2 separate regions of the Homo sapiens genome follow, and region 2 is linked to region 1. Evidence: fine-mapped expression QTL. A gene starts in region 1. The other region holds a variant in brackets. All regions are shown on one strand. Distances are between the middles of the regions.

Region 1 (8,340 bases):
TAATACACAGGTGTGTGGGGAATGGAGGTGTTTCTGTTAGTTGCTGTCACTTTTTTCTGGACATCAACCTCCTTTTCTTCGCTTAAATTAATAGCACAGCTTCTGTCACTCCAAACTAATAATGGCAGCAGTGAAACCTATTTGCTATTTTAGAAAAATGACTAGTAGAACACATATTTCATAATATCACATGATAAAACAATTTAAAATTCACAGGTAATTAAAAACACTTCACTGTCCTATAGTGACAACTAAGATCACTTTAAAAAATCCCTCATTTATCAGACCACATTTATATGCAAGGAGAAATAAAATCTTTTCACGTTCCATGAGGGAAGAAGATAGAATGAAGTCTGACGTAGTGCAAAAATGTGATTAAAGTGAAACAAGTTGCAATAAGAATTAGACTTCTGTCTTTCTAAGGATAATTCTCTATTCATGTTTTCCTGAACACAAACAAATGCTACACCAAAAAAAAACAACCCATAATATAGATAGTATTAATTAGGAGGTTCTTTAAAAACATTTCAAAATTCTGCTGCACAATAGGAAACCTAATTTTCATACTCTGAAATGTATCAGGTACGTAAAGTTGATTCTTTTCCTAGTTCCAAGAAGGTTTTGCCTTCTTTTTCTTTTTCTTTTCTTTTCTTTTTTTTTTGAGATGGAGTCTCGCTCTGTTGCCCAGGCTGGAGTACAGTGGTGTAATCTTGGCTCACTGCAAAGCTCCACCTCCTGGGTTCACGCCATTCTCCTGCCTCAGCCTCCTGAGTAGCTGGGACTACAGGCGCCCGCCACCATGCCTGGCTAATTTTTTGTATATTTAGTAGAGACAGGGTTTCACTGTGTTAGCCAGGATGGTCTCGATCTCCTGACCTTGTGATCTGCTCACCTCGGCCTCCCAAAGTGCTGGGATTACAGGCGTGAGCCACTGCGCCCAGCTCTTTTTTTTTTTGAGACAGAGTCTTGCTCTGTCACCCAGGCTGGAGGGCAGTGGCACAATCTTGGCTCACTGCAACCTCCACCTCCCAGGTTCAAGTGATTCTCATGCTTCAGCCTCCTGAGTAGCTGGGATCACAGGCATGCAGCACCATACCTGGCCAAGTTTTGTATTTTTAGTAGAGACAGGGTTTCACCATGGTGGCCAGGCTGGGCTCAAACTCCTGACCTCAAGTGATCTGCCTGCCTTGGCCTCCTTAAAGTGCTGGGATTACAGGTGTGAGCCACTGCGCCTGGCTTGCCTTCTTTTGAAATAAATTGGCTGTCTCCTATCTATGGAGGTCTAGAAACTCTTGAACAGAGTATGAATTATATGTCTCCACTGGCCTGGAAATTTCTATCCTTGACATTGTTGGTTTTGTTGCCCATTTTGTGGGGCAGAAGAAAGGATGCAGGCAGGGCGGAGTGGCACAGTTTCCTCTCAGGCCTACAATCAGAAACAGGTTGGCACAAGCGGACAATCCCAGGGCCAGGATCAGGGTGAGGTCAGTGAGGCTGAGTTGAGAGGCAAGTGCAGGGTCGGATCCTGTCTTTACTTAAGATTTTGATATTTTGTTCACCACATTTCTTTTCTGCATTAATTTTTATTTTAAAAAATGTCGCATCCCTGAGTTTTTTGGCACCTACTTACATTTTGTGCCCAGGGTGAACGCCTCACTGACCTTACCTTCATCCTGGCCCTGCTCAACCAACACCTGGGCTGTGGGCTCAGGTAGATCTGTGAGGCCACAGTGAGCACAGCCTCTCCCTTTTACCCTCTTCAGCTCAGTTGGGTCAGGAAAGTCTCCTACAAGAACTAAGTTCTCCCTGCTTGCAAAAACGAAAACAAAGGGTAAAGAAAAGTGTCCTCTTTGTCTAACAGGAAGCCAATGGGAGTGTTACAGAACAGCAGTTGTCGTAGATAGAACTGACCCATGGGAGTTTCAGTTGCTCTATTCCAGGGCTTATATCTTTCTGGACAGGAACCATAATGAGCAAAAGAACTAATGCCCACAAGGTGAATTTAGCAGAAGAATCAAGGAGTCAGAATAATACATTAATTCAAAAAGTAGGAAGACTCCCTCCAAAGAATGCTAAGTTAAATAAAAATGAGAGACTTAAGATGCACACAGAAATGTGACATAAAGCTCTTTTATGTAGTGAAATGGGCAGGAGTACATGCGGTACACCTAAAGTAACCGATGGTAACTTTCCATTCTTGAAGAGAACAAAATAATACTTTCAATCGTATCGCTAAACTTCTCATGGGACAGGTTGGTATGTGTCTCCTTGTATTTTCCAAAAATACATGCTTACCCTCCTCAGGCAGGGGCCGGATGCTGCCCCCCACAAAGAACACTGGGGCCCTGCTTTCTCTCCATTTGGGTTTGAAGTGAGTAGAGTGGAGAAAGGGATGCTTTCAGAAATGTTATCTTACTTAATGCCCCCATAGCCTGTAGCTCCGTAAGGAACAGTCTCTCGGGAGAAAGAGAGGATTAGGAGCTGTGGGGGGAAAAGCTTTCCTTCTGGCAGTTTCTACAGCTAGAACCATGAAGCCCCCAGGTGTCACACTGTTTTCTCTGGAGAAATATTATAAGATTAGATGTAATGTTATTACGCTGTCTCATTTGGCAAGTAGTATCATTATCCGATTGTTTGGAAAGGTGAAATACAGGGGATTCTGGTTCTTTGCCCTACCATGGAAGGAACATTTGGACACCACATTACTTTTTTTGGAAAACGGAAGCTAAAGCTAGAGGCCAAAAAAGCTCTCAAAAGAGAAGATGAAGAAAGTTAGGAATATTGGTCTGATTAAAAAGCTCTCAAAATTATCTAGTGAATGCTGACATTAGATAGGTATTGGTCTTTAGGTAATAACATGGGTATGTATCTACTTTATGCACTTCTATGCAGATTTAGTAGAAAAAAATACCTAAATATATATTTAATTCCATAGGATCCCAGTGCATTTTGAGGATTTAAACAGATAAGCCAACCTCAAAGGGACTGATTCTTGCAACTAAAACACAGACACCTCTGGGGTGAAATGTGGCAACAGTTTGACAGGCATAGCAGTAGCTTAGGCCAGAAAGGATTTATCCAATTAAAATTATGGGATGAATTTTGGCTGGCAGAATGTAATTACCAGCCTTGGAATGGATCCAGGATCCTGAGGTTAACACCCCTCCTCTTGCCAACAACCCTCCTACCTGCCAACACTCCGAGATGGAGAAGGCTGGATCTGACATAATCGCACATAATACTGTTGTGACATCTAAGTACAATGATGATGATGTGAGAAGCATCATGAACCTGATTTTTTTTAACACTCATTATGTTACTTATTTTTATGCCACATTAGGCTAGAAACCAAATGTCCACATAAATGTTAATTTCCTCAAATCTGTGTTTAAAAATTATAATTAGAAAATAAAAAATAGATTTAAAAATTAATTTATTCCGTCAAAGTAGTTATTTAGTGATTATTTCACTACAGGAACAAAATTGGATCAAAATGGTGACATTTAATCCTTGCTACACGAAAAAAAAAAAAGCAGGTCCTGATTTTTTGGAAGCGAAATGTGTTTTCAAGGTTGAGTGGCCTAGAAAAAAAGGAAATGCGGAAGCCTGATTCATATTCGTTGTAACTTTGACTAAATGGGTATGCGCAAGGACTGCTTTTGTCCCGGGGTGGGTCCAGTTCACAGTCACGGGGGGCACTAATCCTCCAGGAGGGGATTTACCAGAAGGGTGTGTGTGAGTGCGTGTGTCCCTTCCAAGGAAACGAGAGAAGAGCCCCCTGCTGGTGCATGATCAATAGGCAAAGACCTGATCATTAGATGCCAATGCCCCTTTAAAGTCATTAATTGACTAGAGAATTGTGGAGGGTCTGGCGATACGGAAGAGCAAACGAAAAGGCAACACTGATAAAAATCTGAAGCGTTCAAGGACGCCAGGCACGTGGTGCCGGGTCAGGGAGGGAGAGGCAGAGCCAGCCCGGTCGGTGTGCGGCTGGGGTGGGGCGCGCTCCGGGCGTCCGGGAGGCGGAGCCGGCGGCAGACGCTGCGCGCGGGCCACGCGCGGCGGCGGAGGCTGCGCGCGGGCCACGCGCGGCGGCGACTTGGGCTGGGCGGTCGCCCTGCCCCACCGCCCTTCGGCGCTCGCAGGTCCGCTCCCCTCCCAAACCGCAGAGCGGCAGGCGCGGCCGCTGGTTCGAGAGCTCGGCCGGGGCAGCGCAGCCGCCGGCTGCCCCTCGCTCCCAGGCGCCACAACCCCGCGCCCTCGCCGCTGCTGCGTCCCGCGAGACCTGTGGGGAGGCCGGGAGTCACTTCGGGTTCCCTTTCAGCCCACGTGGTCCTGGGACACTCCACCCAGGAACCTAGTCGGCACCGCGCAGGGAATCCCAGCAGCGGGGTTCTGGCCCCAGCACGCGTTGCGGCAGCCTGGCGAGCGTCCTTGCGGCCTCCAAGTGCCGGTGGGGTGCGTGCGCAGGGGGCAGGTGAACTGCTGCACTTTGCACTTGCTAGGCTAGGTTCTCCGCGGGTGGGGAGGCGCGGGGGCGGGGGACGGCCGAGTGTTTAATCTATCACCAGAGGTCATCCAATGGTAATTGAAGGATGAGCTGGGAGGACTAGGATCTCCCTGTCCCAAACACAGAGTGTTTTGGGGGGCTTGCGTTTGGGTCACTTTCTGAGCCTGGTACTGCCGCTCATTTCAGCTTCGCTGTGAAGGTGAATTTTTCTAACACCATCTTTGTGTGATTTAGCTGTCCACAGGGAATCAAAATGTGGAATGAGAGGATGAAACTAATCCTTTCTTTTGCACTGTTAGGGGTTGCCATAAACACCATTTGTTAAAAAGCATAATTATGTTGGGAAAGTGCCTGATGAGACAATTAAGCTGCATAAACACACTGAAAACAAATGAAAACCAGAAGACGCCCACACCCCTTGTGTAAAGCAATTTTTTGTTTACATAGAAACGAGAGGTCTGGGTTGCTTTATTACAACAATGTTATTAATATCTAGAAAAACCTAATGACAGAATTTTTATGAATTTTCAGTGATGAGATGATGGACATGATATGAAAACCTGCCTGCAAACCTGAGCTAGCTACGAAGCCTGAGCTCTCTCTAGGTTAAGATGATTAGGCCAACGAATGATCCTGGCGAACAAGCCAGTGGATTTATTGAGGGAGAGCACCATTATTTGCACCAGAGCACTTTTAGCTTAAACTCTAAAGTTTAACGCGTGTCTCAGAGTTAGACCACTGTGGTTGGTATCCCTCACACAGGGAACAGTGGTTGGTATCCCTCACACAGGGAACATTACCTGTCAGAAAAAGACCCTCATTAAATATTTGTTGAATGAATTCATGAGGGCCTCATCTATTTTTAGTTATGGTATTTAAAAGAGACCAAAGTTATGAGGTCCTGAACTTGAAGAGGGAAATTATTTTCTTATTATTTTAAGATGTTTTAATTCCTTTAGATCATGAATATCATTTGAAGTATGGAAAGATGTGTCAAAAATGCTATTCTAGAGTACTAAAAAGTATCAAAGCAACCTCCAAAACCTGTATAATTAATTTTCAACAAAAATCACATTTTTGATATTATTGAATAATATGTATCAGAATATGTATCATCTTTCAAGTTACAGAATTTTGTAAAAAGACTTTAAACTGATTTAGAAACTTTGGTGGAACAAGGAGGAACTTAGACAATTGTCATGTAAACCATCCAAATGGCTTCCTTATTTATTTGTATAATGTCCATGGCATGGCCTGTAGACACTTTCATTTTTGCTGCAAGAATTTCTTTTATAAGAATCCACATATTAAATAATCTTCCTCATTTTCTTTTTCTGCATTTCCCCACTAAGTCTAGTTTAACAACAAAAAAAACATACCTGTTTGTAAAATAGTACAGACCTTGAAAACAGGGATAAGGCTAAGGAAAACTATGCTTAAAATGGGATAACATACTTTAATGAAAAACTTTCACTTACATGATGAAATTCACGCTGAGGACCCTGCCAGGTATTTTCCAGTGTCGTTACAAGGTTTATATGTATGTGACCATGTACACATGGTTTCTTATTTTAGTCAATCTGGAGATTTTATGCTTTAGAATTTTTCTAGGAATGAAATAGTAAAGTGCTCATATTATGACTGCTTCGTTTCCAAAAAGTTATGATTTTTTTATAGTTAAAACATGAAAATATGAATCAACTCTAGAGACACATAAAAATTTTTCTCCTATTCCAGAAAAATCATGTCTTCTTCCAGAGTGGGGCTCCGTTTGGCTGCCTGTTTACTAAACGTTTCAGAAGCCGGAAGAAAATACATTGTTGAGAACATAGCAAAAGCAGCTCTTCTTGACAAAAATGGTAGGAAAAACAGACAATTGAAGCTGAATATTATAGTGTTTTGATAATTTAGTAATTTTTGTACTGTGCACACTGTATCTACAGAACACTTTTCTTTCTTTCTTCCTGAATTTTCCTCCTTGCTCTTGAGCTGTTGCAGCTCTGCGCAACTCCAGGATACTGAGATAGCTCAGTTACTCAGATGTGCACATATGCTCTTTTCCAAATGTCTGCATACGCTCAGCAGCGCAGCTCTTAACATTTGCGTGTGAATCTCTGAGATGCGTGTTGTTCAGGATATTGACAGGCTCCTGGGGAGGATGTATTTACATAAAAGTATAATGTTTCCCTCATGGGTCGTTTATTTGATCATTAATAGAATGAGCATAATCGTACCTTATGCTTTTTATTGAGCAGATTAAATGAAAAATAAACTTGCCAAATACCAACTACTTTTCCCAGCACTCCTGCCAGCAAAGCCCATGCAATCATTACAGTATTATTATTTCTACCCTCTTTTCTCTGTATAGACACTGTTAGGCAAGTGCATTTAAATGATGCGCTTAAGATCACTCAGCAATTTGGTGACAGAAGACTGGAACTCATGCCTCCTTATTCCCTCGGCCAGTATTACTATGAAAGATACTGCTCTTTAAAAAACATTTCATTTTTTAAAATGTTCCTGTGGTGACACATGGTTAGGTATTATTTGTCTTTACTTTGACACACACACTAATACACACAACAGTGTATACAATCATTTAAATAGAATGCTGTTATTAAATCAATAACTTTTTGGCAACAGGTGAAACCAACCCTAAAGCATTTCAGACAGTAAATTTTAATTTCCGATTGTCATTTTTAATGTGGTTACTGCTTTTCATAAGAAAGAAGTGTTTTCCCCCAACCCATCTTAACTGTGAGCACATTTAAGTTACTGTCTTGCAACTTTGCAGGAGCTAGAAATGTCTATGAAAATTCCTGATAATTGCTGATAAGAAAACTTCTTTGGAGTTGGTATGCAGCTGTGATTTTGCATGCTTTTTGTGGAAAGAGCCAGCTCGGGCTCTTCATTGTCAGAAACAGTACATCTAATGGGATTGGGTTGCCTGTCTCTGTGATTAAGTGAATGTGCAGAGACATTTGTGGAAGACACACACTGATGGATGCCTGGGTCTCAACTCACAGTTTTTATCAGCTTATTAGTGGCAGCAGCTCAAATGGAATTATAGCTATTATACTCCATTACAAATACCAAACAATTTACTTCTGCTGAGATTCACACTGACAGCTCCTCTTGCCAGCAGTAATTTCTTTTCTATATGCATGCTTAAGAAATTGCAGGAGAGTGTTTTATTCTTTCAGCATTTGATTCAATTGAATCATATGAAACTGAGAATAAAAGCTTTTCAGGAGAAGATTTAGGATGAAAAAAATTACATCATATCTCGTTTCTTCCAGGAGTTAGAGTATGTTGAAAAACTATATAAAATAGGAAGTTGCATGATCTTCTTCTTACTTCATCTTTTGTAGTTTTCAAAATGCAAGGAAGGTAGCACTAGTTAAGAAAATGAACCTTTTTTTTTTACAAATATTTTAAAGGCATTTATTTTTAAGTGAGTGGAATAAAACCATATAAACTGTATTTTTTTTTTCTAATTAAGCAATGTGAGCACATTTAAATGGCCTAGAAAGGTCTTAGGTAAAGGAATCTGAGTAATAAATTTTAGACCTACACCAGGGCAGGACTCTACAGATGCTCGTTTGGCCATGAGTGAGTGACATATGTTTATCTTCTCACATTATTAAAATTAATAGTGTAGGGCTGTTCTAAGCTCTGTAGTTCCTGGGTGTAACTTGTTTTTCCTTTCCTCTGAAAAGATTAATTGTTAAGCTGCCAGGGGACAAGGAGACAAGGTATAATAGCATAACCAAAGGTTTAATTACCGCCTGAAAACTTTTGTCCTTCACTTTGAATTTGCTTTTGTAGGC
Region 2 (8,340 bases), 110 kb after region 1:
CTCAGAGGAACCTATAACCTCATTTTATTAACGATGGCCTGCAGACCCCGAGACACTAAGAGGCTTAATTACCATCTTGCAGCCAGTCAGAGGCAGAGGCAAGGGACGTGCATAGGTTCCACACAGCATGTAGTCTCAGGAGAAACGCCCAGAGCCTCTGACAGGCTGCCTTTGCCTGCAAGTCAGGGAGAGTCTCCACCACTCCATCTACACCTTTGCTTTTGGTCCTCATTTAATCAGTGCAGAAACGTTCAATGAATATGTACTCTCCACTCAACAGTGATAGACAAAAGCATAACATTCTGTCTCAAGAGGTAAACAGTCTGGTTTTGGATGTTCAGGCTAACATTCAAGAAAAGAATACAAGAGAATATACAATTTCACATAAGCAGCTAAAATCCTAGTGGGCTTCTAAAGACTGCTTGGTTTCCTGAGAGTCTTTCGAGGGGCTTTGAAGTCAGATCTGGATTTGAGCTCAACTTTGTTATTAACTGAGTGACCTTAAGCAGTCACTGGGCCCACTGAGCCTCAGTTTCCCCATCTGTAGAGAGGAGACTACAGGGCTGGGGACAGATCCACATGGGCTGTTGAGGTGATCATGGTGGTTATGGTAACCACACCACTGTAGCCCCAGCTGCTGTTAAAACAGCTGCCACTGATATTCCCATTGCCCTAGGGATAAAACAGCAGGAGCTTAGTTGGAGATTAGCCTCCAGCTGGCCCTCCAGGTAACCCCTGAAGGCTGCTTCATTCTTACAGATAAATAACATTTCCAGTCTTCTTTATAATGCTCGCTTATTTTCCCCAAGAACCTAACAGGTGGGTTTTTGCGAGACCCATTTGTAGTTCCTTTGTGGTCCTCCTACACTGCACCATAAATATCCAAGCATAATTCTTCCTCCTCCTTTGTGAATTGGAGGAAAACTCATACCTTATTTTTCTACTTCTATTGTAGTGAACTTTTTCCTTGTTTGACTAGAAACCGAGAGACTCTTTGGGTACAAATCCCAACTCTGCTTCCACCTGTTGTGTAACCTTGAGCAAATGACTTCATTTCTATGTGCCTGATTTCCTCATCTGTAAGATGGAGATAATCATATATTCATATCATATGGCGGTTGAAATCATTAAACAATGTATTCCATAAAAAACACTTAGTATGGAGCCTGGCACATAGTTAACACACAATAACTATGAGCTATTAGTAGTAGTATCATCAAGACTTTAAGAAGAGATAAAATTGCTTTGTGTAGGACTACTTTGAATAAAGAAGAAATTAAAATAAGGAAGAGAATCTCAGTGCAAAATTCTCCAGGCGTTGATCCCCGAACATTCTAGGCATTATGATAAATCCTAAGAAACAGAGTTACTTTGGAGCCTTTGAGCAGTTAATGGGAAAACAGAGGAATTCCCCCCACCCCACATTGGTATAGTAAATGGAGGGAGGTACCCACAGGGCCAGGGGAAAGAAGGAGCAGGGTGTAAGTCTTCATGGGAGGCGTTAGGGAAGTGTTGGGGGTAGTGGGGGAGTCTTCACAGAGAAGGAAGACTTGACTTGAATTTGAAAGAATGGTTAGGAGGGGATCAGATGAACACAGAAGCCCCAGGATGCTCTAGGCAGAAGGACCAGTGTATTTAAAAAAAAAAATTGAGGCAGAGAGAACAAGATACATTCTGGAAATAGCAAATAGTTGGGTCTGCTGTGGGGCATATGAGGGCGGAGGGTAGGAAATGAAGCTGGAGACGGTAGGCAAGTATTGGTTTATGAAAAGCCCATGTGCCATGCTAAAGAGTCCAGATTTTATCAAGGCAGCCAATATTACATAAACTGTATTCCCCAGATTCGTCGATATGTTAATAGCTGTTCCATTAATTTAAAAACATTCTGTGGTCCAATATATTTGAGAAATGTTTAGTACAAAAAAGTTAATTTTTTTTTTACTGTAGGATTTTCAGAGCATTAATATGTCAAGAGGAAGATATAAAATGAAGCTTTCTTAAAACCTTTGATTTGGTTTTGAAATACTTCTTATAGTGCGCTTGTTAACATCTAGTTCCAGAGGACAATAAAGAATTTTGAGGAGGGAAGTAACATTTGAAAATATTTTATTTAGGATTACAAAGACAATTCTGGAAGCAAAGTGGAGATGAGCTAGAGAATGTTAATGAGGGGGAGGTGTTTTTGAAGGAATATATTATTTGTTCCGTAAGTATAATAATTATTCTGAAATGAGTAATATAAATATGTCACCTAATCGAAAGGGACTGCTAATTAAAAAATAAAATGTTGAATTAGTTCTTATTTAAAAAGCATGGTGGTGCTTTGTGGGCCAGTGCTACTTCCTACAAGGAGTTCATCAATTAATTAGGTACATATTTAATAGACTTCTTTGGTTACCCAGTTTTGCATTTGTATTTTCATAGGTTGATATGGAGACTTTGAGTTTTGTTTTTTCTTTTGTTTTGTTTTATTTGAGAGACAGGGTCTCACTCTATCGCCCGGGCTAGCGTGCAGTGGAGCGATCATAGCTCACGGCAGCGTCGAACTCCTGGCCTCAAGCGATCCTCCTGCTAATGCCAACTCTAAAATACCCAAGGCAGGATGAACACAGGCTGTCTTCTACTTATTAACTGCACGAACATAAGCAAGTTATTTAATCTTTCTAATTGCAAATTTTTTAACATATAGAGGGGAGGTCATAATTCCTGCCTCAGGGAGTTGTGTTGATAGAGTGGCATGACCGTTCTTTGTGATCTGTGAAGGACTGCCTGAATGAAGACTTGTGAGACACTGCAGGAAGCTGGCACACAGTGGACCCTCTATAACATTTGCCGAACCATTTCATGAAAGTAGATCCTAGCCCTGTCTTCTAACAGCATGAAAAGGGGCATGTGCTCAATTTGTGTAATCCAAATTTTCAAATCGAGAGTTGCTACCTGTTAGCTCTCCCCAGGACTGCCACCTCCCTTTCGTGTGAATGTGAGTTGCGTTTCCAGACTCCCCTCAACAACCTCCCTCCGAGTTTTCCTAACTCAAAGAGGCTACAGGAGATTCAATGACAATTGCCTTTGAGGTTGCCAGAGCAGGCAACTCTTTGTTTCTAATGAATCCATTGGATGGGCCTTTCTCCCCTGCAGCCTTGCTCTTGGAGATCACCTTGATCACAGCTCACCCCACGAAGCTGGGGAAGGGAGGGCACCTATGGAATGTCCTTATGGTGTTCTAACACGTCCTTAGAATGGGGCTCCAGCCCTGTGCTCCACTCCTCCGGGCAGCTCCCATGATGCTCAGATTAGGGGGCAAGAGGGAATGGGGCAGAAAATAAGGCGATTCAGAGGCTCTGGAGAGCTCTCAGAACTACAGCTTGGCTTGAGTTCCCACTCTACCTTTTGGTGGTGCAACTGGCTACGTCAGACTCTGAACTATTAACACCTGCAGAGTTTTCTCTTCTCCAGGCCCTGCTCCATCTCAAAAGTTTCCGGCACCACCGTGGCTGCCTTTGTTTCTCTTGTCCTTTCATTTAGGTGGCTCTTTGCCAGTGATGGTAGCTCATAAAGATGACTAACAGTCATAAAATGAACCGAGTTGTTTTTCCATGCAATAGTGATTCTTTGCAGTTATAATTCTTCTGAACTGACAGCTAAGAAGTGAAAAAAGGTGCGGTAATTGAAATTAATTTCCCCTTTAAACAGTGGTTGTTTTCCACCCTCGAAGTTCTTCTGGCGGCAATGCGTACTCTCGCCAGCAGGGGGCAGTGTTCATCTTTAAATGACGTGAGCCTGGCAGGCCCGGCTCCCAGAGTTCGCAAACCCCACCGTGTCCCAGGATCCTAGGCCCTCCAGAGCCCATACTGAAGTTCTTCTACACACAACGTCTCCTGAATGCAAATCTTATGGACTGGTAAGTCTAGATTTGCTCTGAGTTCTGACATTAAACAAAAGCACTTCCATAAAACGGAATGACGGGGACTTTATGGCAGCATGCAGCGTTATTTTCATTGTGAATAATGTTTTAAGCATTTCGGGGTGTTGGGATGGTCACAGAGTAACTGAAAATCACTCTAGTATTATCATAGCTGCTAAACTGGGTTTTTTGTTTTGGTTTGGTTTTGATTGTTGTAGTCACCCTGAGGCTGTTCGAATAAGCAAGGGAGGAATGAAACAACTTTCTCCCAATTAGCCAAACTCCTGTATGGAGGCCTCTGTTCTTTCACATAAGCATACTCTAGCTTCCCAAAACAGAAGTGTGTTGTCCACAGTGTGGTGACTTGGATTTTGAATGTAAAAACTAGAATCACACTATGTTGCAAGTCAACTTTTAACCAATGAATAGATGATAAGCCCAATATACTCTAAGTTTTACCCGTAAAGCTCCTTCTGAAAATAAAAAATTCGCAGCACACATTTGTGTGCATCCTTGCAGTTTTAGCCCCCTGTTGATAAGAGCACCCCGATTCCGAAGTGGTAGAGGGTAGGGAAAGAGGAAGGGCTATCTCCTCTCCAGTGGCCTTGAGGCAGGAACCAGCATTCAAGAATGTGAGTGAAGTCGGGTGATTAAAATAGCCACACTGCTTCAAACTTTGAAATCTTACTTAAAACACAGTCTTCATTTTATTTCAATGAGAGACATACACTTTAAGGAAACATTTAACATTATTTTTCCAGGTTCTTGAAGAATTTTGCATTTCTTCCTTCCTTCTGAGACATGGTTTCTAGTAATTTCCCCATACAATTTGGGCTTCCTGTGACTGAGAATTTATTGCAACGCCTGTCACATTTTATGGTGCTATTA[C/A]GAAATTTAACTGAAATACATGAGAATGGTGTGTTTACAAAGGTTGTGCAATCCTCTGAGTTAATAGAAACAAAGTTCCTTTGGAAGAGTTAAGTGGGTCTTAAGCTATAGTACTGAGAGAGGGATACAGAGAGAGAGGAGGAAATTTAGCCCTTACAGTCTTCACCTTTGCTTCACTCCATCATTATTTGCTTTTCTCTTTACCATCATTGATAGTTGAATTCAGCATTCACACCAAAGCAGCTGTGTATTGAAACGAGCTTTCTTAAGAGTTAAGGAATTTAAAGCACTGAGATTTTGGACTTTGGGAAACACAAAGTGAATCATTTGACCTTGAATTGTGTATCACAATCCTCTGTTTCAGCATGAAGACTGCATATGTACATGTTTAATGAAAAAGACCCTTAAGGTTTGCAAGGGGGAAAAAAAAAGCAATGCCCTAGATTTATATATTCCATTAAACGTGATCTTCACAGGCTAATTAGTTAGTAATTTCACCCTTGCTTGTAATATAAACCATTTTATGCTCAATAATAATAAAATCTATGTAAACCAGGCTCTTTATTAATAAACATGATGTGCTTCTGGCTTTCAAATAAAATAATGCTTTACGTGCTTTCCTGTCTATCATGCCTAGACTAATCACACAGTAAAAATCAAACAACTAAAACAGTAGTTTTTATCTCATGCTGTAGAAAAACAATAGAGAGACCACGTCAAGAGCTTCTGAATGAGCCATGAACTAGAGAAGGCTGGGATGGGGGAGAGAAACCCAAATCTTTCTTTCAGTGTATGGTATCGAGAAACTTTTAGGCTCTTAAAATGATTCAAAATATGTTTTTGAATAATGAGCAGACATCTATGGAATTGCAGGTGAGGGAAATGACTGAGAATCCCGTTTCTTATCAACTCCCCCAACCTGTGAGAACCCAGTGAAGCAGTTAATGGAGAGGCTCCGTGAGCCTGTGCCGTGAGGCAGCTGTGGTCATTGAGGCAGCTTCCCCAACAGACAGGAAGAAACAGGGAACCTTATGTCTCAGGTTCAAGTATCATACAAATATCTTCTAACTGAAACGCTCCTAATTGTGGAATTTGCATTACTCTACCTCTCAGTAATAGGTCACACCCAGGCAGGACCAGCTACGTGACACGCAGGGACCACTGCAAAATGAAATGCGGAGTTCTTTATTCACGTTATTCAGCCTTTCAAAATGATGCCAGCAGAGCATTAAACCAAGTGTGGGGCCTTCTAAGTGCGGGACCTATGAGCCTATGAAGCCAGCTCTGTGCCCAGGAGACACAGTGGCCCCAGGCGTGACACACAAAATTAATTTTTTTCTACACATTTCATCTCTCTAAAAGATTGTTTTAGTCAACACAGGAAGAGTTCTGGTCATTTTAGCACCACTATGAAAGTTTTCAAAAGGATAATTCCAGGTAACCTTTCTGTTGATATATTTAGTATACCTATGAGTATTTGGAGAACTCTGGAAAAATAAAATATTTATTGACAAATGAAAATGTCTTTACTAGGAAATATATTATTTCAAATTCAAAAGTATCCAAGGCAATCTGGGAAATTCTATTCATACTATGAAGGCTCCTATCTGAAATTTCCTTTTGTTAGATAATAACAAAAATAATGGCTAACATTCATTGTTTATTAAGTGCTTTATATGTATTAACCTGTTGATTCACTAAACAACCCAGTAAGATGGGTAGTATTATGCCCAAATTATAGACTGGAGGCAGAGAGTGATTAGTTAAGTCACTCAAAGTCACAAAGATGGTAAGTGACAGACATGAGATTTGGTCCAAGGTAATTGTTTCCAGAGTTCTTGCTCTTAACAACATCACAGCTCTCAGACAAGGTGGAGAACACAGAAAGTAAAGTTGCTGTTTTGGAAATTTATTCCATGATACTTCAGGCACTGTGGCTCAGCAGTCTGGCAGCCAATGGCTTTCTGCCAATCTCTCCTGTTTCCCTGTGTCCACTGTGGTCCACATTCATTCCACAGTGGGACAGTTTGGGCAACAGGGGGTTCCCAGGATAACTGCTTTGAACTGAATTAATCAGTTCAATCAAACAACCCTTCAACCCAGTCAAATTACCAGTTCAATTGACTATTGCTTTGACTGGGTTGGTTGGTGCCTGAACTCAGTGTATGGGTAGCTGCGTCTTTTGAGGCTGTGTAGACACTCACAGTTGTAGATTGAAGTGATATCACTACTGTGATGCCGAATGACACTAGTCAAGTTCTTCCTGTAAAAACCAACATCACCAGGCTTGACTCTGTGGGAAGGGGATTTGCTTCTTCTCTAATTGAATCTAAGCATGTTAAAATATTGTTTTTCCTCAGTGAAGGCAGCTTAATGGATTGAATTAGCAATACAGAGGTAAAGACAAAATATGAGACAGAAGGCATACTGTTATTTCTACCTTTAAGGGAGAATGCTGCAGGTAGCGTTTGAGAAGATTTTCTTCTATCTAGAAAGTCAAGGTTAGCATCCACATTGTGAGTTCTAACAAGCAAGTCAGGCATCCCCCATAACTCTGGAAGTACAGGTTGGAGGCCAGAGTGCAAACTGGTATTTGTTTAAGGTTGACTAAGGCAGGTAAATGATCCAAGGAAGCTCATGGAAACATTGAAGGGCAGACAAATGAAAACCTGAGGCATGTTTTTAAGAGTCAGGTTGATAGCCTCTTTGCTCTGTAAAGATCTGAAGATGCGTCCACTTAACCTGCACCCATCTCTTTATCACTGTCAAATATTTACAGATAAATGTTTAAGTGCCTGGAAGCTTGGAGAGCTTTGCTTATCAGAAAGCCAGTTTTAAAAGGCACTTAATGCTGGAGTTGGTGGGCTGATGAAAATGCCCTCTGTCCCATTTACTTCCCAATAGTCACAAAGCTAATTGGGGTTGGCATAGGCTATTCTGACTTTGCTGGGAAGAAAATCTTGAAACATTTTCAAAGAATTCATAGCTATAAAAGGAAAGGCTATTAGAGGGTAGTGTACATAGACAAATGATAGATTTGTCCGCTGTCGTATGTGAGTCTTTGAGGGAAAAATAGATGGTAGTTATTCTGGCTCTGCTGTATTCATTCACAAATATGCAACAGATATTTATCAAGTGCCTTGTTGCCTGGTGTCATGCTGGAAATTATGATAGAGCTGTGAATATGGCAGACAAGAGCACTGCCTTCACTAAGACACAGCCTTAGTGCGAGAAGAACACAGCTATGGCGTCTGCATACCGTGTGCTTGCTCACCACCAAACATGAAAAGACGAGGAAGAACTCTTCTACTTGGGCATCTTCTGATTTCTTTGCCCATTTCTATAAAAGAAGTTTTTTTACCTGAGGACAGATGGAAATGCTTCTTGCTCACCACTAAAGATATGTCTAGGGAAAAACCAAGGAAGCATGGAATAGGACCCCGTACTAATTTAAGCTGTAAACTTTAATTTGTTATACACATGTAAAAAAAAAAGCAGGGTAATATTCACTATTGTATAAATCAAACCAACCGTTTACCCTGTAAAAT

What was found.
Region 2: its variant is fine-mapped to the expression of FTCDNL1 in whole blood (INTERVAL, PIP above 0.99).

Annotation. Positions count from the first base shown.
Region 1 is chr2:199,846,877-199,855,216 of GRCh38, reverse strand. It overlaps FTCDNL1 (formiminotransferase cyclodeaminase N-terminal like), which reads left to right and starts at 4,025. Exons shown (of 5, transcript NM_001363886.2): 1 at 4,025-4,477; 2 at 6,248-6,369. The coding sequence starts at 6,255. RefSeq lists an enhancer at 3,559-4,133 and a silencer at 3,965-4,244.
Region 2 is chr2:199,735,412-199,743,751 of GRCh38, reverse strand. It overlaps a transcript of FTCDNL1 not described here. Among named protein-coding and RNA genes, the nearest start is that of FTCDNL1, 110 kb to the left of the region's middle. The variant C/A (reference allele first, on the strand shown) is at 4,793.